4 separate regions of the Homo sapiens genome follow, and regions 2, 3 and 4 are each linked to region 1. Evidence: fine-mapped expression QTL. A gene starts in region 1. Each other region holds a variant in brackets. All regions are shown on one strand. Distances are between the middles of the regions. Region 1 holds the start of SECTM1 (secreted and transmembrane 1). Region 2 has its middle 12 kb from the start of LINC01970. Region 3 holds the start of FSCN2 (fascin actin-bundling protein 2, retinal). Region 4 holds the start of TEX19 (testis expressed 19).

Region 1 (5,142 bases):
CTGTTGGGACAGGAGATGGGGTGCAGGTGGAAGGCTCCAAGAGGCATCTGGGCTGGTAACGCGCAGACATCCCAGGTGGGTTGGAAGTGGGTCAAGGAGGCCTGGAGGACCCGGTGCCTGTGGGGGTGGCAGGCGGGCCACATCCTCCACTAGAACCCGAGGTGGCGGCGGGGTCAAGGATGACGAGTTATCTTCGGGACATTAGGAGGAAGCCCCACAGGCTGCAGTCACGTGGGTGGGCAAGGATGAAAGGCAAGGGAACCCAGAGAATCAAGTTACAAAGAAAAGCAAATGCCGCCAGCACAGTGGCTCACGCCTGTAATCCCAGCACTTTGGGAGGCCGAGGCGGGTGGATTGCCTGAGCTCAGGAGTTCAAGAAAAAAAAAGCCTGGCTAACATAGTGAAACCCGTCTCTACCAAAAATAAAATAAATAAATAAATAAAAGCTGGGCGTGGCGGCACGTGCCTGTAGTTCCAGCTACTCAGGAGGCTGAGGTAGGAGAATCGCTTGAACTAGGGAGGCGGAGGTTGCAGTGAGCCGAAATCGCACCACTGCACTCCAGCCTGGGCGACAGAGCAAGACTCTGTCTCCAAAAAAAAGAAAAGCAAATGCTCCAGGACCTTGGGGATTTTAAGAATATGCTGCCGAATAATTTGGAGAGTTAAACAGAAAATCATAACTGAAATCTACAAATTCCTCGAACAGAAAGGAAATGAAACTCCACATGTCACCTGGCACAGCAGAGGCTGTGATTCAAGGACAGGCTGAGGGTGAATGAATCCACACATCCGCTCTAAGATGCCTGATCCCAGCATTGTATAGAAATGGAAAGATACGGCCGGGTGCAGTGGCTCACGCCTGTAATCCAGCACTTTGGGAGGCCAAGATGGGCGGATCACAAGGTCAGGAGATCCAGACCATCCTGGCTAACACGGTGAAACCCCGTCTCTACTAAAAATACAGAAAAATTAGCTGGGCGTGGTGGCGGGCGCCTGTAGTCCCAGCTACTCAGGAGGCTGAGGCAGGAGAATGGTGTGAACCCAGGAGGCAGAGCTTGCAGTGAGCCGAGATTGCGCCACTGCACTCCAGCCTGGGCGACAGAGCGAGACTCCGTCTCAAAACAAAAAAAAGAAATGGAAAGATACTGCCCAGATGTGGTGGCTCACACCTGTAACCCCAGCACTTTGGGAGGCCAAGGCAGGCGGACCACCTGAGGTCAGGAGTTCGAGACCAGCTTGGCCAACATGATGAAATCCTATTTCTACTAAAACTACAAAAATTAGCTGGGCGTGGTGATACATGCCTGCAATCCCAACTACTCAGAAGGCTGAGGTGGGAGAATCAGTTGAACCTGGGAGGCAGAGGTTGCAGTGATCGAGACTGCAGCACTGCACTCCAGCCTGGGCAACAGAGACTCCGTCTCAAAAAAAAGAAAGAAATAAACGTGAGTGGATGGCTGTGCTGTTTGTATGGACCAGGAAAACTTCTAGAAGGATAGGTAAGGCAGTGTCCATAACTCAACCTGGGAATTGAAGCCAGGGTGGGGAGGAAAAGGCAACAGTTGGTTTCATTCTATTTTGTTTCTGTGCCTGTATTACTTCCAAAATAAACAAACTAGTTTCACTTTCACAACATGAAATGCTTTATCAGGATATGCGTTTTCCTCCAACCCCCAGTGGTGTCCCCTCACGGGACAAAAGCCTGCCAGCCTTCAGCTGCCCTCCAGAGCCTCACGGTGCAGGTGCTCCTGCCTAAGCAGCCGGACCCCCCTGCCCCCAGGAACTGCAGCCCCCTCTGAGTTGAGAGATCTAGTAGGCAGGAAAAAAGGAGAAGGAAGCTGTGGCTGCTGGGGGATGTGGCCTCGGGGACAAGCCCCTCTGTGCAGAGGACGTGGGCAGGTGGGATTTCAGCCCCCTCTCCAGCATCTCACTGGCAGCCAGGGTGGCTGGGGTTTCCCCGAGGGCGGGGGCTGGGGAATCTGACCTCTGTGCCCCGGCCATGGTGCCGTCTTGCTGGGAGGATGACAGGCTGTGTTTCACCTGCCAATTTGGCGACAGTTTCTCTTTTGGAACATCCCGGGGGACTTTGTTCTGTGCCACCCACCTCTGGACCCTGGGTCTGATGGCTGAGCTGCAGGCTCCAAGGTTCAGCGTCCAGTCTGGCCCTGCTCCGTCCATTCCCCACATTTGAGGGTTTCCCGGAGTTTGGTTCTGCTTCTTCCTCTCTTCCATGAAACTGGGGGCATTGCCCACGCCCCAGTGTCCCCCATCATCTGCCCGGTGGGGACTTGCCCACTCACGTGACTGCAGCCTGTGGGGCCTCCTCCTAGTGTCCCGAAGATACCTGGTCATCCTTGACCCCGCCCGCACCTGCCCGCGTGCCCCCTCGGGTTCTAGTGGAGGACGTGGCCCGCCTGCCACCCCGCCAGGCGCCGGGTCCTCCAGGCCTCCTCGAGCCACCTCCTGCCCACCTGGGATGTCTGTGGGTTCCCGGCCCGGATGCGTCTTGGAGCCTTCTACCCGCACCCCAATCTCCTGCCCCAACAGGCTGGGCCCCTCCTCCCGGGCTGGCCAGGCCAGCACCTCCGCAGGGGCCGCAGGACGCCTGAAGGCCCAGGCCGCAGGTGCAGGACCCTCTGCGGGGGAGCTGGGGGACATCACTCCTCTGCTCTGCGCGCTTTTATGAAAGGGCCTCTGACCCTCCGGGGGTCCAGCTCACTCTGCCCGCGCACTCCCAGGCATCTGGGGGCCGCCCCCCGCCCTCCCTCCCCGCGGCCCACTCGGCCCGCCCAGCTCGCCCCGTGCACAGACTCGAGGCCTCCAGGAGCGGAGCCAAACAGCCCCGCGGGGAACGCGCGCCGCACGCGAGCTGGACCCGCCCAGGCACGAACTCTCCTGGAAAAATGCTCCCGGCGGCTTTCCTGCTTCCTTTAGCGTGAACCGCGGGTGCGGTGCCTCCCGTGAAAATAATAAATTCACCGTCACGCTTGTTGTGAACGCGGGTGGTTCCCGAAACTTGGAGGCTTCCCGTAAACCCAGCTCCTTCCTCATCTGGGAGGTGGGTCCCGCGCGGGTCCGCCGCCTCCTCCCTGGCCCCTCCCTCTCGTGTCTTTCATTTTCCTGGGGCTCCGGGGCGCGGAGAAGCTGCATCCCAGAGGAGCGCGTCCAGGAGCGGACCCGGTGAGGCGCGGAGAGGGGCGGGCGGGGGAACCAGAGGGGCGGGCTCGGTGCTGGGGACTCGGTGCTGGGGACTCGGTGCTGGGGACTCGGTGCTGAGGGCCCGGTGCTGGGGACTCGGTGCTGGGGGCTCGGTGTTAGGGCCTCTTGGTGCACTGGGGTTGCCGGTCCGCGCAGGGATGGGGACTCTGGGGCTGCGGCGCCTCTGCCTCTGGGACCGTCACCCCCCGCTGGCCCTGAGCGTGCGTCGCAGGCCAGGCGGGCGGGGTCGCAGCGGGCGTACCCGAGTATGGGCGGGAACGAGCTGCCGGCCGGTGTGGGGACCCGCGTCCCTGCCCTGTGCGCCAGGCTCGACTCTTGAAGGGACAGAGGCGGCGTCTCGGACCCGGGGCTCCCCTAAGTCCGATGGGTCGGAGCCCCCTCCTCCCTTCCCGGTCCTCGGCCTCACCCGGGGTTCCCTGCGCCGTCGCTGCGACCAAGCTGGGAGCAAAACGCACTCGCTCATATGCGTGCACACAAGCTGGTGGACACACGCACATGAGCACACGCAGGCACGCGTGGACTGTTGCACACTCCACAGCCACAGCCTCGTGTGCACTCACAGCAAACTCATGAAACAGGAACCGTGAGGCTTCCCTCACCCGGCAGGCCCTCAGCTGCCCGTTCTCACGCGGGTTTTGCTGACTCCGCAGTAATCACCACATTCAGTTCCTTGCCCACTACTGGTGAATCACCTGCAGCTTGAGAAGCACGTTTTCTGCCGGTGGTCAGCAGAGGATCCCCGGCTTCTAGGAGGCCCAGGGCGACCGGCTGCAGGAGCCCGCGTAGGAGGCCTGTCTCCAGCAGGGCGGGGGTGGTGGCAGGGCCTCTCCACGGGGCTGCTGCTGAGCCCAGAGCGGGAGGACAGGAGGCCACCAGCAGAGGGGACAGGTGAACAGGTGCTGAGCAGGAAGGGTTAGCCCGGTCTAGCCCCAGGCCTGGGGGGCTTTGCTGCTCACCTGGGGTCCCCTCTGGGCCTGGCTCAGCAGAGACCAGGGCAGAGCCGTCCACACCGTGGGCCTGGGTGGGGTCCATGGCCTCTGCAGGCTGCAGCTGTCTTCTGAGAGGTGTTGGTGTGCTCATTCTCGGTAGAGACGTGGGGTCACCTGTGTTCCCTGAGCCCCTGCAGCAGCTGGGAAAGCAGTGTCAGCCACCCCTCAGGTGCTGTGGGGGTACAGAGTCCACTGACCACACAGGAGGACCCCAATGAACCCAGCCCGAGGGGGCCGGAGCTTCCACACACCCAGCACCCATGGGAGCCGGGACAGGCAGGCGCCCGGGGCACCAGGGAGCGGGAACAGGCATGCGCAGGCGTGCTGGGCGGTGCGTGAACTTTCCTAGGCGTGTCACTGGCATGGCTCCAAGCCTGCGCATCATCGCTTGTCAGGGAGCACTCAGACCCTGCCGTGTCTGGTGCCGGCGCCTCAGATACCGACCCCTGTGTTCGTGGTTTGAGAGAAATCTGATTGCCGCCTCCATCTTTTCCCGCTCTAGAAGTTTGTTTTTTGTTTTGTTTGGTTTGAGACGGAGTTTCGCTCTTGTTGCCCAGGCTGGAATGTAGTGGCCAGATCTTGGCTCACCACAACCTCCACCTCCCTGGTTCAAGCGATTCTCCTGCCTCAGCCTCCCAAGTAACTGGGATTACAGGCGTGCACCACCACGCCCGGCTAATTTTTTTGTATTTTTAGTAGAGACGGGGTTTCACCACGTTGTTCAGACTGGTCTCAAACTCCCGACCTCAGGTGATCCACCTGCCTCAGCCTCCCAAAGTGCTGGGATTGCAGGCATGCGCCACCGCGCCCGGCCCACTCTAGAAGTTTTGAGGCTCCGTGCGCCTCGTCTCCCTGTACCTGGTCTCCCTGTGCCAGGTCTCCCTGTGCCACACACGGAGCTGCCCGGCCAGTCACCGCCCACCTGGCCACTTTC
Region 2 (5,142 bases), 29 kb after region 1:
ATTTTTTGTATTTTTAGTAGAGACGAGGTTTCACTGTGTTAGCCAGGATGGTCTCTATCTCCTGACCTCGTGATCCACCTGCCTCGGCCTCCCAAAGTGCTGGGATTACAGGCATGAGCCACCGCGCCCGGCTTCTTTTCTTTTCTTTTCTTTTCTTTCTTTCTTTCTCCTTTTTTTTTTGAGACAAGGTCCCACTCTGTCACCCAGGCTGATGTGCAGTGGCTCGATCACAGCTCTGTGCAGCCTCCACCTCTCAGGCTTACGCAATCCTCCTCCCTTAGCCTCTTGAGTAGCTGAGACTACAGGTGTGCACCACCACACCCAGTTAATTATTCTGAATTATTTGTAGAGACGGGTCTCACTGTGTTGCCCAGGCTGATCTCAAACTCCTGGCCTCAAGTGACCCTCCCATCTCAGCCTCCCAAAGTGCAATGATTACAAACATGAGCCACCACACCTGTAAACACACTTTAAACAAAAGGACACCAATAGGTTGGAAATAAAAGGATAGAAAACTTATGAGGCAGATAGGAACCAGAAGAAAACAAAAGTCATCAATCTTATGTTCTGACAAAATGGAACAATAGAATAAGATATAACCAGTATGAACACAGGTGAAACTAAAAATAAAGACAAAACATGCAAACCAGGAATGATATAGCCACAGAGAAAACCAGATACATCACCCATTTAAGCCCAAGCTTTTAATGTGCTCCTTCAGATCTAAGTCATGAATTAGTTAACATGGACCTCTACGCTTGTGAAACAGAAAACAGACACTAGCATCAGTGTACATGAAACCTTGTTTAAATGCTCATTTACTGTCATCAGGAACTAAGCAAGAAAATGAGAACGAGGCCGGGCGCGGTGGCTCACGCCTGTCATCTCAGCACTTTGGGAGGCCGGGGTGAGTGGATCACTTGAGCCCAGGAGCTCCAGACCAGCCTGGGCAACATGGCGAAACCCAGTCTCTACAAAAAATACAAAAATTAACTGGGCGTGGTGACGAGTGCCTGTAATCCCAGCTACTCGGGAGGCTGAGGCAGGGGGATATCTTGAGCCCAGGGTTTGAAGTTGCAGTGAGCCGAGATTGTGCCACTGCACTCCAGCCTGGGTGACAGAGCAAGGCCCTGTCTCAAAAAAAAAAAGAAGAAAAAGAGAATAAAAATTCTTAATTCCTCCACACCCAAAGATAACCATACTTGACCACACAGACAGGCAGGAAGCTGCCTCTGGGGGCTCACACACGGTGTGGTAACGGAAGCCCGCATGCAGGGCAGCGCAGAGGGTCGGGGGGAGCAGTCACTCAGCAGAGTGGATCACTTGTATTTTTGCTGCTTCGTCTTGCTGCCTGCTCTCTGGCCGCCTCTTCAGGTGGCCACAGTGTCGTGACATCATTTGTTTCCCTCCAGAGGCTCTGAGGGAGAACGGGCTCCAGGCCTCTCCCAGCTCCTGGGGCTGCCGGCGGCCCTGGCGTTCCCGGCTTGTGCCTGCGCCGCTCCAGTCTCTGCCTCCATCGTCACGTGGCCTTCTCCCAGGCCTGTGGTTTCTCTCTTCACATCAGGACACCAGCCGCGTGGGATTCAGGGCCATCCAGTAACCTCAACTGGATGACATCTGCCAAGACCCTGTCTCCAAATAAGGCCCTGTTCAGAGGTTCCAGGCGGACACGGATTTCAGGGGACACCATTCAATCCAGGGCAACATCCCTCTCTCAGACAGCTGGAAACAACATCCTCAGTCTCGGAGCAACTGCACAGCCATCAACATACCCCACTAAGCTAAGCCCAGCTAAACACCCCAGCTCAGTGTCCCTCAGCTGGGCCCCAGAACTGCTCCGGGCACCTGATGCCAGAGGAGACGGCAGTCTGGACCAACTGCTGTCAAAACAGCTTGAGCAAATTGTATACAACCCCAGCCGGGTGAGGACATTGCCAGGCCCCCTCCAGGGCCTTAAGAGGGCTGAGGTCTGTGGTCAGGTGCTTCAGGGTGAACAGGCCTCAGCGAGGTCCAGCCAGACAGGCTGCCTCGCGGAGCCGGTGGTGTGTGCGCAGCATCAAAGGCCCTGAAGGTGGGGTTGTTAGTTCTGTGTTGCAGGAGGGAGGGCGCCAGCACGGATCCCATGTCAGAGATCCCATCTGCCGCAGCTTCTCCAAGGGTCGACCGGGAACTCAGGGGCAGGACTGAGACCACCCCCGAGCCCCATGGCAGGAATTTCCAGCCCCCAGCCTTCCACATGTCCCGTTTTCCCTAGAGCCAGTGCTGGGCCTCCCCAGGCACGAGGATGCCCAGTTGAGTGGCAATGGGAGCTCCGGGCCTGAGTAACATCCTCAAAACCAAATGCCAGGTTAGGAGCAAAGCTGGAGCCAGGAGTAGGTTCTTGTTCCTCAGAATAAGTGACTTTTACACTCAGTCAACTTTTTCTTTTTCTTTTTCTTTTCTTTTTTTTTTTTTTT[TG/G]AGACAGGGTCTCTTTCTGTTGCCTGGGCTGGAGCGCAGTGGCGCGATCACAGCTCACTGCAGCCTCCACCTCCTGGGCTCAAGTGATCCTCCTGCCTCAGCCAATGCTGTTGGGAAAATGGCCTCAGAAGACAGGACAGGGAATCACTGTGGCCTGGGCAGCTGGAGTGGGGCCCGGGAGCTGGCGTTGGACATGGGGAAGAGAGGAAGGGAGGAGGGAGAGGGAAGGAGATAAGGGGGCAAGGAGCGGAGGGGTGGGGAGCAGGGGGAGGGGAGGGGATGGATGGGGCCGGGCCACCTCCAGGCTCGCAGAGTCAGCAGGGAGAACATGAGTCGGCTCCCACCAGGGTGGGTCGGCCAGAACCCAGCAGCCTGGAGGCGGGGAGCCTGGGGCTCTTGGTGCTCAGAGGCCAGAGGGCCTCAGAGGGCAGCTGGAAGAAGGGCGGGAGCCTTGTAGAGGGGCCCTAGCCTCCCCGTGACAGGGCCAGGTCGCATCTGCTCCTCTCTCCTCCCTTCCTCGCCTCCCCTCCACTCCCCTCCCCTTCTCTCGCCCGACAAGCCCCTCTCCCCCAGGGCTCCTTCTCCTTCCCACCCCCAGCCCCAGGGGCCCCCTCAGCCCCTCCACTTGCTGGAGTGGTGAAGGACAGTGGGGTGGGCTGACTGATGGGCGGCCGCCGGGCCGGGAGCTGCTGTCCCGCTGAGACTCTCAAGCTGCCCTGCATCCGGTGGGCAGCCTCCGGGACCCTCGAGCCTCCCGGTCTCCAGGCTGTGGCAGGTGGCTGGCCTGCTTGGAGACACCCCTGGGCCTGGGGCTCCTCAGGTGCCCCCCGAGCACATCCGCCTCTCCCTCAGGTTCAAGCCATCAGCTTCACCCCATTGTTTAATGCATTTAATCTTCTTGGGCTCACAGGGAGCCAGGGAGACCCAGCCTCTCCTTGAATAAAACCAAGCCTGAGCCAGGAGGAGGTGGCCCCGGTCAGGACAGCGAGGTCTGAAGGGCACTCGCCTGCCCCAGGTAACAATGATGGAGAAGGAGAGGTCCCCTCCGGAGAGACCTCAACCTCCCCTGCCCCACAGAAGTGGGGAGTCGCCACCAGGGCCTGTGGCCACAGCTGGATGAGCTCTTCAGAAGCTGTGCAGGGTGGAGGAGGGGCTCAGTGCGGTGCAAAGACCCACAGGACGCGGTGCCCCCCGACACAGGGACACAGGCACCAGAGGCCAGGGCCACCGCAAATGGCCAGGGCCGTTCCCACGCTCAGCCTGCCTACCCCAGGTGCTCCACACCGTGAGACCACACAGTGGGTACCCCTCCCCTAGCTTCTGGGGCAACAGCCTGCGCCGTCCTGTGCACGAACTCTTGGTGCTTCCTGAGTTGAAGATCAAAGTCCGCCCTAGACCACGGAGGAAGATGCCAGAAACCGGGGGAGGGTGAGGACGCTGTGGGTGCTGGCCACACAGCTGCCCCTTTCCTTCCTTACCCACAGACTGGGGGCTGCTGTGGGATTTGGGAAATGGCTCCCAGAGGCTGGAGCAGAAGGCCTGGCTCCAAGGCTGGAGTGCCTGGCCATCCGTGGCCATGGAGGGAAAGCCGCGGTGTAGAGGTGCGGAGCCGGCCAGACCCACGCCCCCAGCTGCTCAGCAAGCTCAAGCTGAGACTCGGGCCGGGGCTGACCGCTGGGGGCTGAGCTCCCTGATTCTCACAGTGGTCGCGGAGGCGGCATCCTGCCTCTGTCTCTCTTCTGCCACAGAATTCACCCCCGGAGCAGGGCTCCAAACCACCGCCCACCCCTGGCCTGGGGCCTCCAGCAGGCGCCCTAGCTACCTGGGACTCCTCCATCCATGACAGGACTGCCTGTCCTAATAAGACCCCTGCCTGGGTTTCTACCCCAGCAGCCCCTGACGGCCTCTGTCATGAAGGATGGAACTTCCCAGCCCTGCTAAAGGCTCAGCACCCGAAAGACCGCCTTCAGCTTTGGGCCCAGCCGCTCCCAGCCCCATAATGCAGGCCGGGAGAGGGTCACCCAGACGGAGGACGCCCCGCCTGCCTCAGGCCTCCTGGGTCCGTACGCTGGTGGTGACTTGGAAGAGGGCTTCTCTGGGGAGGGGCCCCAAGCCCCATGGAAGTGGTTTTGCTCAGGTCGGGGGCTGCATCCCCTCACCCTCCCCAGTCTCCCTCCCAGGAGCAGCAGCTGGCAGCCAGGTCCCGGGGCGGCACCAGGAGATGGTCACTGCCGATCCTGCCTGGCTGAGACCCCGGGCTCTGGGACCAGGCTGCCCCGCTCCCTGCATCCGCCCTCACCCCGAGCTTCAGAAACCTCAGTACAAGGGGGTGATCTGCAAAGGGACCTGGGCTTTTCCAACTCCCTCTCCTTGTGGCGGGTCCTAATTTCACGTTTTCTGGTCTTCAAAGTCCCAGCCTGGGAAGCCGAAGAGACCCACTTCTCTTTAAGGCCTTGGGCCTGGCCACTCGGCCGCCGGCCTCCCCAAGCACACCTCACACTCGGAGAAAGGGCCGAGCAGCCTGTGTGGGCGGGTAAACCGCGTTCCCACCAGCGCAGACACCACTTCCTACCTGCAGCGGAGGCCCAGTGCCAGCTGCTGCTTAGCTTCCCAGCGAGCCAGCCCCACCCAACCCCTCCTTGAAGACAAGAGGGGTCCAGGAAGAGCAGTGAGGGGGGGCCCAGA
Region 3 (5,142 bases), 810 kb after region 1:
AGCAGGCACGGGGCTCAGGCTCCCAGACCAGACGGCCGTCGCTGCGCAGGTAGCGGCTGTCACAGGACTTGAGGCAGTACCGTCGGCTCCGGAAGATGAGGGTGAGGAGGGCGTCCACGCCCCAGGGCTTGTCTCCGTCTGCGGCCATCTCGTCCTCCCGCGGGCACAGGTGCACGTAGCGCCGCCGGCTCACGCTCAGCAGGTGGGCCTGCGGGTGGATGGCCAGGTGCACGGTCCACAGCTCGGCCGGGGAAACGGCTGTGGCGAAGCAGGACAGCTGGTCCTCGGTGCCTCCGAAGAAGCGGCCGTGCGGCTCGGACCGCAGCACCCAGCGCCCATCTGGCTGCGGCAGGACCAGGAAGCGGCAGTCACGGCCCGGCTGCTCTGCCTCACAGGCCACGCGCCCGTCCTCTTCTGCCGACAGGTAGCGGCCCAGGTGGCTGCTGCGGAGCAGCACAGCCGTGCCTTGTCCTGGGTCGGGTTCCAGCACCCAGGTCTGCTTCCTCTTGAGGCTGGGTGCCGAGGCATTGACCTTGAAGCCGAAGCTCTCAGCTGTCAGGTAGCGGTCAGTGTCGTTGACGAGGCCAAACTGGATCTTCAGCACCTGGTGCAGGCCGTTCGTCGGCATCTTCAGGCTGGCCGGGTCCCCGGAGGGGCCTGGGATGCGCCCTCTGAGTGCTCACGGCCCCCGCGGTCCCCCAGAAGCCCGGGTCGGCTCGGCTGGCCCACAGCCCCCAGACCCAGCCGGCGTCACGAACCCCCTGCCTGCTCTGACCCGCCTCTGACCCGCGGCAGCAGCCTGGGCAGCTCTTAGAGGGCCCGCGGGCAGCAGAGGGCGGGCGGGGAGGGCGGATCAGAGACGTGCGGCTTAGGAGCAGCACCTTTCATTACCCTCAGCTTGGATTTCAGCCACTCCCGGATTGCACAGAGCCCAGAGCCCGAGGGCCTGAGGGCCTACGGGGCTGGAGGGCAGGGTTGATCCCCTTTTCCTCATAGCGTGGGCCCAGCGCCCCTCTTCACGGCCCTGCACCTTTTGGCCTCTCTCGTTCCTGCCCCCCTCCTCCAACCCCGTGTGGGCTCCCGGCCCGGCCCGGCCCAGCCCTTCCGGATGTAGAAGCCGTCCAGTGGAACGCTCACGGCTCGGCCGCAACCTGATCGCCGCCCGTACCCTCGGTGGCCGCCAGGCCCTCAGCTGGATCCAGTTACTGCTTCTCTGATTCCTGCTGCCAGAAGCATAGCAAGGACCCCAGCCACAACCTGCAGCCCAGGTCGCCTCCACCCCAGACCGGCCTCTGGCCACACTGCTCAGGCCCCAGAATGACGCACTGGACTGCCACCCACGCTGGAGGGTGGAACACAGTGGCCGTGCAGCCCTGCAGGCAGGGGGCAGAGTCAGAGGCCCTGGGCCAGGCTGGCCCGGCCCCAGCGCACTCCTGTGCGCTCTGAGCAAGTTGCTGGGCCCTGAGGCTGCCCCCTCCTCTGCTGTGAGCTGGAGTGAAGCCAGCCTCACTTCACTTTGGAGTCTTTACGGATGTGGATCCAGGAGGCTGGTGGGACGATGTCCACCCCATGCTCCCAGCGGTGGCCCTTGGAATCTGGGAGAGGATGAAGGCCAGCAGGCCGGGAGAGACTGGAAGTGGTCACACCTGTCTACAGCACCTCCTTGCTCTGGGCCACCTGGCTGTACCCCTTCCCCAGAGCCTGAGGGGCACTGGGCCCTGCTCACCGTGCCTGGCTCCTGCACCTGCCTCAGGGGCTTGGGGCCAAGTAGTGAAACCAGAGCTGGCCACCCTGGGCCAGGGCCAGCCCGGTGTCCTCTTCCTCATAACAGCGTGTGACCCTCCCGTCTCCCTGGGGACTGGGAACAGGGGCCACAGGCCCCTTCCGGTCATGGCCTGGAGTCACTCCCCTGTCCTCCTGGGCCCATCTCCTGAGTGGCCATCATGGGGGTCCCCGTAGGGCAGGAGTCTAGCCAAAAGCAAGGGGCCTGGGCTGGGCACCTGTGGGCTCCAGAGGTGGGCAGGGCCATGGTGGCAGAGTGTGCACAGACTCAGGGGCTCTTCCTCTGTCCTCTAAGCCCTGGACAGCAACCGTGCCAGGCACCTGCAGACACAGGGGAGGAAAAAGAGGAGACCTGTCCCCACTGTCCCCACGCTCAGGGGCCAGGGTGGGGGCAGAGAGACTCCCACATGCAAATACCCCCCAGGGCACAGCGTACGCCAC[G/A]ACGCCAGGGCCTGCTCTCGCCTCTCCCTGTGTGCTGGCCTCATCCGCCTCTATGATTCACACGCATTTATGAGGCACCAACTGTGTGCGAAACCAGGTCACGTGCCAGGCACCATCCTGGGGAGACGCAGTCTGGGGTTTCACCCCCTTCCCAGAGACGATGCCCACACACACTCTCCCACAGTTTCCAGGGGACTGAGGACACAGGCCTAGCACCGATGCCAGGGAACTGTCTCTGGTTTAGGGATACAAGCTAGGGTGCTGCCTGCACCTCACTTTCCCATTGGCTCTTCTTTTTAAAAAACTTTTTTCTTGAAATAGGGTCTCGCTCCTCACCCAAACTGGAGTCCAGTGGCGCAATCTTGGCTCACTGGAACCTTCGAGCTCAAGCAGTCCTCCTGCCTCAGCCTCCCAAGTAGCTGGGATTACAGGCACTTGCTACCGTGCCCGGCTAATGTTTGTATTTTTAGTAGAGATGGGGTTTCACCATGTTGCCCAGGCTGGTCTCGAACTCCTGACCTCAAGTGATCTGCCCGCCGCGGCCTCTGAAAGTGCTGGGATGATAGGCGTGGCCACTGCGCCCGGCCTCCCGTTGGATTTTGAGGGTACAGCTCGGTTGGTCCGTGAGCGGTGGGGGAAGCCGGAGGGGCAGCTGTGCCCATGGTCCCCCCCACCCCAGGCACAGACACTGGCTTCACCTCCACACCCCAACGCCCAGCCAGGCTGAGGAGGAGCCCAGGCGGCCTGCCCCTCTGATTGGCACGACGGCCTCATTAGCGCTGTCTGGGCTGGCAGGGCGCTTAGGCATCGGGTGCTCAGCAGGGGGAAGCCTGGCCGCCCGGCACTAAGTGGGCCTGGCTCTGGGCAGCCTCTTGGTGGCAGAGCCAGAAATGATGGCGGCTCCTCAGTTCTAGGGCCCCACAGCTCCACGTTGGGTGGGGCTGCCTGGCACTGACCCAGCTGTGTGAGCTAAACAGGGGAGGGTGACTGAAGGGTGGGCGCCTGGGCCAGGCTTCCTTGGAGGGAGGCCGTTTACAGGGATTCCAGCCCCTCCTGCCTCCACCTCAGGACCCCAGGCTGTTGCCCAGCCACCTGCTAGGATCGCTTCCTCTGGATTCTCAGCAAAATTTCTGGCACACAGCAGGTACTTAATAAGTGCCTGAGATTGTTGGATGTCGGGAGTCTGGTTATTATTAATTATTTTATTTTTTTCAGACAGAGTCTCACACTGTCACCCAGGCTGGAGTGCAATGGCACAATCTTGGCTCACTGCAACCTCTGCCTCCCAGGTTCATGTGATTCTCCTGCCTCGGCCTCCCGAGTTGCTGGGATTACAGGCGCCTGCCACCATACCCAGCTAATTTTTTTTGTATTTTTTAGTAGACACGGGGCTTCATTATGTTGGTCAGACTGGTCTCGAACTCCTGACCTTGTGATCTGGCCTCCTCAGCCTCTCAAAGTGCTGGGATTACAGCCGTGAACCACCAGGCACAGCCTTTTTTTTTTTTTTTGAGACAGAGTCTTGCTCTGTCGCCCAGGCTGGGGTGCAGTGGCGTGATCTCAGCTCACTGCAACCTCCACCTCCCAGGTTCAGGCGATTCTCCTGCCTCAGCCTCCCAAGTAGCTGGGACTACAGGCGCCCACCACCACGCCCCGCTAGTTTTTGTATTTTTAGTAGAGATGAGGTTTCACCATGTTGGCCAGCATGGTCTCAAACACCTGACCTCAGGTGATCCACCTGCCTCGGCCTCCCAAAGTGCTGGGATTACAGGCGTGAGCCACCGTGCCTGGCCGTCTGGTTCTTTTTATTTATCTTAGAGACAGGGTTTTGCTCTGTCACCCAGGCTGAACTGCAGTGGCGCTATCTTGGCCAGTGGCAGCCCCGAACTCCTGGGCTCCGGCGATCCTCCCACCTTGGCCTCCTGAGCAGCTGGGACCCCAGCACAGGGCCGGGTTCTTGTATGATGGGCTGAGCCTCTGCCCATGGGTGCAGCGTTGTGCATGTGTGTGAGTGTGGTGTGTGTGTGTGTGTGTGTGTGTGTGAAGGTGCTCATGGATGAGGGTGGGCAAAGGTTGCCAGAAGAGTCGCCTGCTGGGCCAACTCTGGACCCTGGGACTGTCATCCTGGATCCCAGCCTGAGAGCCTACTCAGGGCTGCCCAGCAGGGAGCCCAGGTTGTACACTGCCCAAGGGAGGCTATTTCCAGGGTCCCACTCATACTCCAGACATACACAACTCACAAGAGCATATGGTGGGCTGGGGCACTCTAGCCCCCTGCAGTGTTCTCAGGCAACAGGAAGCACCCCTCCCACTGACCCTCACCAAGCCCTGTGGCCACACCTCCGGAGGTGCCAACCAACCACTCACATGGGATACACACGTGCCTGCCACCCTGACCTGTGCAGGCTGCACTGTGGCGACATTCAAAGGCGCTGCCACACTGAGGGCTCCACGCCCCACCCTCGCCCACCTCTGAGGCTGGTGGAAGCCCCTGCCCAGTGTGTGCCTGAGGCCCAAGCTGAGGTCTGCACCTGGGAGGGGGTGCCTTGTCCCGGTGGGCAGTGAGAGGCTGTTTGGGGTAGCAGTACCCCCAGCCCCCTGGTCCAGGGAGCAGCCAGCTGTGACAGACTTCCTGGCCTCACCTGAGCCCAGAGGGCAAGGAATGCCTCAGCCATCAGAATCCCCTGGCAGCCTCCCGAGGCCTGAGCCTCGGCCTCCATCCCTCTCAGTGCGGGGCCAGCTGGGCAGGACCAGGAAGCCATGCGCCCCCACCGGCACCTGGTGTCCACCCTCAGGTTTCCCGAGAGCCCTTAGGAAATCGTTCCCTTTCTGAGGTGCTGGTGGACGGGCTGTCCTGGTGCTCCAGGGTCCCCCTTCCCCTCCCCGAGTTGGCCCGTCTGGTGCTCCAAGGGGAAGGAC
Region 4 (5,142 bases), 23 kb before region 1:
GGAACCTGAGGGAAACTTGAGGGAAACTGAGGGAACCTGAGGGAAACTGAGGGAAACTTGAGGGAAACTGAGGGAACCTGAGGGAAACTGAGGGAACCTGAGGGAAACTGAGGGAAACTTGAGGGAAACTGAGGGAACCTGAGGGAAACTGAGGGAAATTTGAGGGAACTTGGAGAACCTTAGGGAACCTGAGGGAAACTGAGGGAAATTTGAGGGAAACTGAGGGAACCTGAGGAATCCTGGCCCCGCTTCAGCCTCCCAACCCCTCACCCAGCACCAGGCCGTGTCTCCGAGACCCCTCCTCAGAGACCCCTCCTCGGGAGATCTCACCATCCTGGTGTCTCTGTTCATGTGGGCACCCAGGGAAAGGAGGAGGCAGAGCCCATTTGGGTATATAAAGGGCCATTTCCCATGGTGCTCTGGGCTCATCTGCATATCTCCCATGAGCCTCAGTTTCCAGGAAATGAAAGTGCTGAGTCACCAGCTCCCTCCAAGGAGGGCCATGTGCAGCCCCTGGGCACCTGCAGGAAGGCCCTGGAGAGGCAGCTCCTCTGGGGGCTGGAGATTGGGGTGGGTGCTCTCCGTCTGCAGGCTGGCACAGGGTGAGCATCCAGCCTGTGGTTGCTGGCCCGTCGTGGGCACGACGTCCTGGTCCTGCCGCGTTTGTAAAACGTGATCCCTGCTTTGCTGTCTCTGTCTTAAAGTTCTCTGAATTTTAAGAACCAGCCAATTGTCAATTAGTTATTGTTTAAACACATTTTCCCCTTTGTGGTTCATCTCTTCGCTCTTTAAACAAGACGCTTATAAATTAACACTTGTTTTTTCAGTAGACTCTATTTTTTACAGCAGTTTTAGGTTCATAGCAAAATTGAGCCAAAAGCATGGAGCTCTCCCACCGCTCCCCTGCTCCTGCAGGTGCACAGCCTTCCCCAGTCCTCCCGTCCCAGCCATTTGTTACACGTTGTTATTATCATCATCGCCCTCTGCAGTTTCCATTATGCTTTCCTCCGGTGCTGTGCATTCTGCAGGTTTGGACACATGTATAATCATGCAGACCCACCACTCTAATATTGTACAGACGGGTTTCTCCGCCCCGATTCATCTGTGTTCTGCATTTTCATCACTCCCTCTCCCAGCCCCTGGCAACCAGGAATCTTTTGACTGTCTCCTTAATTTTGCCTTTTCCAAAATGTCACAGAGCTGGACTCATACATTATGTAGCCTTTTCAACTTCTTTTTTAGTAATACGCACTTTGGTTCTTCCATGTCTTTTGTGGTTTGATAGTTCACTTCTTTTTTTTTTTTTTTTTTTTTTTGAGACAGAGTCTTGCTCTGTCACCCAGGCTGGAATGCACTGGTGAAATCACAGCTACTACAGCCTCAACCTCCTGGGCTCCTGTGATTTTCTCACCTCAGCCTCCCAAATAGCTGGGACTACAGGTGCTGGTGCACACCCCGATAAGTTTTGTATTTTTTGTGAGACAGGGCCTCACCATGTTGCCCACACTGGTATCAAACACTTGGGCTCAAGTGATCCGCCTGCCTCTGCCTCCCACAGTGCTGGGATTACAGACGTGAGCCACCTTGCATGGCCAGCTCACTTATTTTTTAACACTGAATGGTATTCCATTGTCTGGATGTACCATGGTTTATTTATCCATTCACCTATGGAAAGACATCTTGGTTGCTCCCAGGTTTGGGCAATTATGAATAAAGCTACTACAAATATTCATGTGCAGGTGTCTGTAGACATAAGTTCTCAACTCATTTTGGTAAACTCTAAGGAGTGAGATTGCTGGATGCTGTGGTCAGAGTGTGTTTAGTTTTGTAAGAAAGTGACAAATTGTCTCACACAGTGGCCCTGTGGGAGGAACCCCCAAACCCTTTCCCTACATCCCCATGACCTCTGCTCCTCCCCACCTGGCAGCTGTCTGTGCCTGGCTCAGGTCATCCACACACCTGGGGCTGCCTGCCACCCCCACCAGGTTAGGGCTCAGATCAGGGCCACCCCTCACCCTGGGGCTTCCTCGTCCCAGTCCTGG[G/T]ATAGGGGCAGGTGTGGGGCTTTGGCTGCCAGGTGTCCTGCTGTGGGTGGAGAGGGCAGTGAGCTCATTCCCTAAAGACTCGGGTGCCTGAGCTGTCTGGCTGGTCCCCTCAGGTGAGAGGAAAGTAGTGGTTGAGGGACCCCACAGAGAAGCCTGTTTATGGGTCTGGGGGTCAGAGGCTCCCGGGAGGAGCCCCCAGGTCCTGGTTTTCTCTGAAAAGGCCACTCAAGGCCTCGGGGCTGAGCTGTGGCTGCCCTGGCCAGAAGGGGGCCGGGGAGGGAGCCCTGCACCTGTCGTGAACACTCAGGGCTGGGCCAGTGGGCGCCTGGAGGATGAGGTCCCTCCCACCTGGCCCCTCCCAGCCTCAGTTCTCAGGACACAGCCCAGCCGGCAGCTGCCAGAGTCACTGCCTAAAGGAGGTTTTGACCGAGGAGCAGCAGAGCCCTCTGAGGGCCCCTGTGGTAAGCAGGCTCCTCGCTGGTTTGCATGGCTTTTTCACACAGTAGTTGCGTCGAGAATTTAATATGCTGCGACCTCGTTGCCAGCAGGAGCGGTGTGGGACCGGGAAGCTGACGGGGAAGTGTTGGCGGGTGCAGGGCAGCGTCCACTCTGGGAAGCTGTGGCCAGCGCGTCCTGGCCAGCCAGGGCCTGGGCAGGGACTTGCCTCTCGGGCCTCGGCCTCACCCTGGTCTGAGAGTGTAGGACCCTCTCAAGGTCCTCAGTCACCTCAGCAGCCTGGGACGGAGCCTTTGGATCGCTTCCTGGGCAGCTGGGTACAGGAGAGGCCACTTGAGACAGATGTTGGGATGGACAGCTGGATTTGAGGCCCAGAGGGAAACCGTGGCAAGACTTGGTGGGTGGATGGTACCAGAGGAACAGGACGTGGCCATAATCGGGGAATCCAACACTCCTGTATCTCCAGAAGGACCAGGCATTTCCCCAGCTGCAGAGACCACTGATGGGGCAGCACAGCCATTGTGGGGCCAAGGCCATGACCCGGAGCCACTGGGGCCGTAAGCCTGACACCCAGATTGCCCACGAGCCAGAACCCCATCCCCACCATCCTGGGGTGCACAAGCTCTTGTGTTAGGAACGGGTGAAGAGGGGGAGCTCAGGAAGCTGAACGCAACCCAGAGGGGGTGGACAAGCAGGGACAAGGCTGCCAGATGGGCCTGGCCAAGCTCAGGGGCCCCCAGCTACCTCGGGGGTGCAGGTGCCAGCTGAGCCCTGCAGAGGAATGGGGTGAGGCCACGTCACGCTCTTTGAGCACCGGCTTCCGAGCTCAAGCGGCTTCGTCTCTGTCTCACCCAGAATGCCTCGCGCAGATCCGGGGCCCAGAGAACATTCCAGAGATGCTTGTGGAGTGGAGCAGCTTTAATAAGACACATTCTTGCTTCTCTGTTGGCTTCTTACCTGTGTCCTCGGGATGGCTGCCAAGGTGCTACCAACCTGCTGCATCCCTGGCTGAGGCTCAGAGCCTCCTGGGCTGGTGCCTTCCTGGGCACAGGATCCCCAGCAAGTCCAGGAATCTGACCTGAGGTCACCAATCATGCCCAGGGAAACCAGCCAGCCCCCAAAGCCTCCAAAACCCAAGTGGGCTTGGTTCTGTTGGCAGGTGACCCAGCTGGAATCAAACAAGAAAGAAAAGTGTGTTTAGATCATCAGGTGACTCACCAAATAGAACTTTCTTGAAAACTGTTTAATAATCAAGACCAGGAAAAGATTATGGAATATTCTAGCAAAGTCCAAGTACTTGGATTTTAAAATCAACATTTATCTTACTGCTCTTATATTACAAAGTTCCGCCCTCACCTCCAGTCTCAACGTTTGCACAAAGCATTTCAGCAGCACATGCAATGGCGTTATGGTTGGCTTTTCCCTCTCGCTCCTCCGCACAGCACTGAAGAAGGACAGGAGCAGTTTTCTTTGTTTCTTGCATGAATTTACTACTGAGGCTCGTCAGAGAGAGGCTGCCTGTGGGAGTGATGCATGGCCTCTGCTTCCACGGAGAAAAGCCACACGGTGGTGGCCAGGGGTGGGATGCGCCCGTGGACATGGAGGACAGATGTGTTCTGAGAAGCTGCCTGTTTCTTTTGTTTGTTTTTGAGATGGACTTTCACTTTTGTTGCCCAGGCTGGAGTGCAATGGCGCGATCTCAGCTCACGCCAACCTCCACCTCCCGGGTTCAAGTGATTCTCCTGCCTCAGTCTCCCAAGTAGCTGAGATTACAGGTGCCTGTCACCATGCCCAGCTGATTTTTGTATTTTTAGTAGAGATGGGGTTTCACCATGTTGGCCAGGATGGTCTCAATCTCTTGACCTCGTGATCCACCCGCCTTGGCCTCCCAAAGTGCTGGGATGACAGGCATGAGCCACCGTGCCCAGCCGAGGTGGCTTCTTTACAACAGACTATCCAGGGGACCACAGTCACCCTCCCCTCACTCCCAGCCCACCCTTCCTGCTCATTTGCTTTGTCCACCTACTCAGCTCCGTGGCCCATTGGTGGCCTCCATCCTTCTGAAGGACCAAGAAGCCACTGCCATGTGGAAGCACCTCCACGTGCCCTGGTCAGGTCTGTCACCAGTGCTGTGTGAGGATCAGAACACCCTCGACCACACTGGCTCATCATCCAAATTGTAATCATGGACTTAGAGGCTGTCCTTTTAAAAATAACTTTTGGTATTGTTTGCTTATTTCAAAGTAAACAAATTCATTATCAAACATTTAGAAAACAGGCAAGCAAATAAGAGGAAAGAACATCACCAGTCACACATTCTCCAGAGAGTGCAAAAAGCAAGGTCTCTGTATCTTACTCTCAAGTAGGAAGAATGGTTGCAGGAGAGGAAGGAAGGAGAGAGGGCCTGGGCGCTGTACCCGGCTGTGGCCAGCTCTGTCCTGAACCCTCCTGGGGTCTGTCCTGAACCCTCCTGGGCTCTGTCCTGAACCCTTCTGGGGTCTGTCCTGAACCCTCCTGGGGTCTGTCCTGAACCCTCCTGGGCTCTGTCCTGAACACTCCTGGGCTCTGTCCTGAACACTCCTGGGGTCTGTCCTGAACCCTCCTGGGGTGGGATTTCCATAAGGTGGGCATTATTATCTTCCCT

What was found.
Region 2: its variant is fine-mapped to the expression of SECTM1 in whole blood (INTERVAL, PIP above 0.99).
Region 3: its variant is fine-mapped to the expression of SECTM1 in whole blood (TOPMed, PIP above 0.99).
Region 4: its variant is fine-mapped to the expression of SECTM1 in whole blood (TOPMed, PIP above 0.99).

The regions. Positions count from the first base shown.
Region 1 is chr17:82,331,738-82,336,879 of GRCh38, reverse strand. SECTM1 (secreted and transmembrane 1) reads left to right here and starts at 3,114. Exons shown (of 5, transcript NM_003004.3): 1 at 3,114-3,180. RefSeq lists enhancers at 1,691-1,760, 3,808-4,610 and a silencer at 4,487-4,771.
Region 2 is chr17:82,302,242-82,307,383 of GRCh38, reverse strand. No RefSeq gene overlaps it. Among named protein-coding and RNA genes, the nearest start is that of LINC01970, 12 kb to the right of the region's middle. RefSeq lists enhancers at 3,499-3,999, 5,087-5,142. The variant TG/G (reference allele first, on the strand shown) is at 2,457.
Region 3 is chr17:81,524,018-81,529,159 of GRCh38, reverse strand. It overlaps FSCN2 (fascin actin-bundling protein 2, retinal), which reads right to left and starts at 783. Exons shown (of 5, transcript NM_012418.4): 1 at 1-783. The coding sequence starts at 628. RefSeq lists enhancers at 1-334, 335-861. The variant G/A (reference allele first, on the strand shown) is at 2,224.
Region 4 is chr17:82,354,474-82,359,615 of GRCh38, reverse strand. TEX19 (testis expressed 19) reads right to left here and starts at 369. Exons shown (of 2, transcript NM_207459.4): 1 at 331-369. RefSeq lists an enhancer at 2,792-3,727. The variant G/T (reference allele first, on the strand shown) is at 2,043.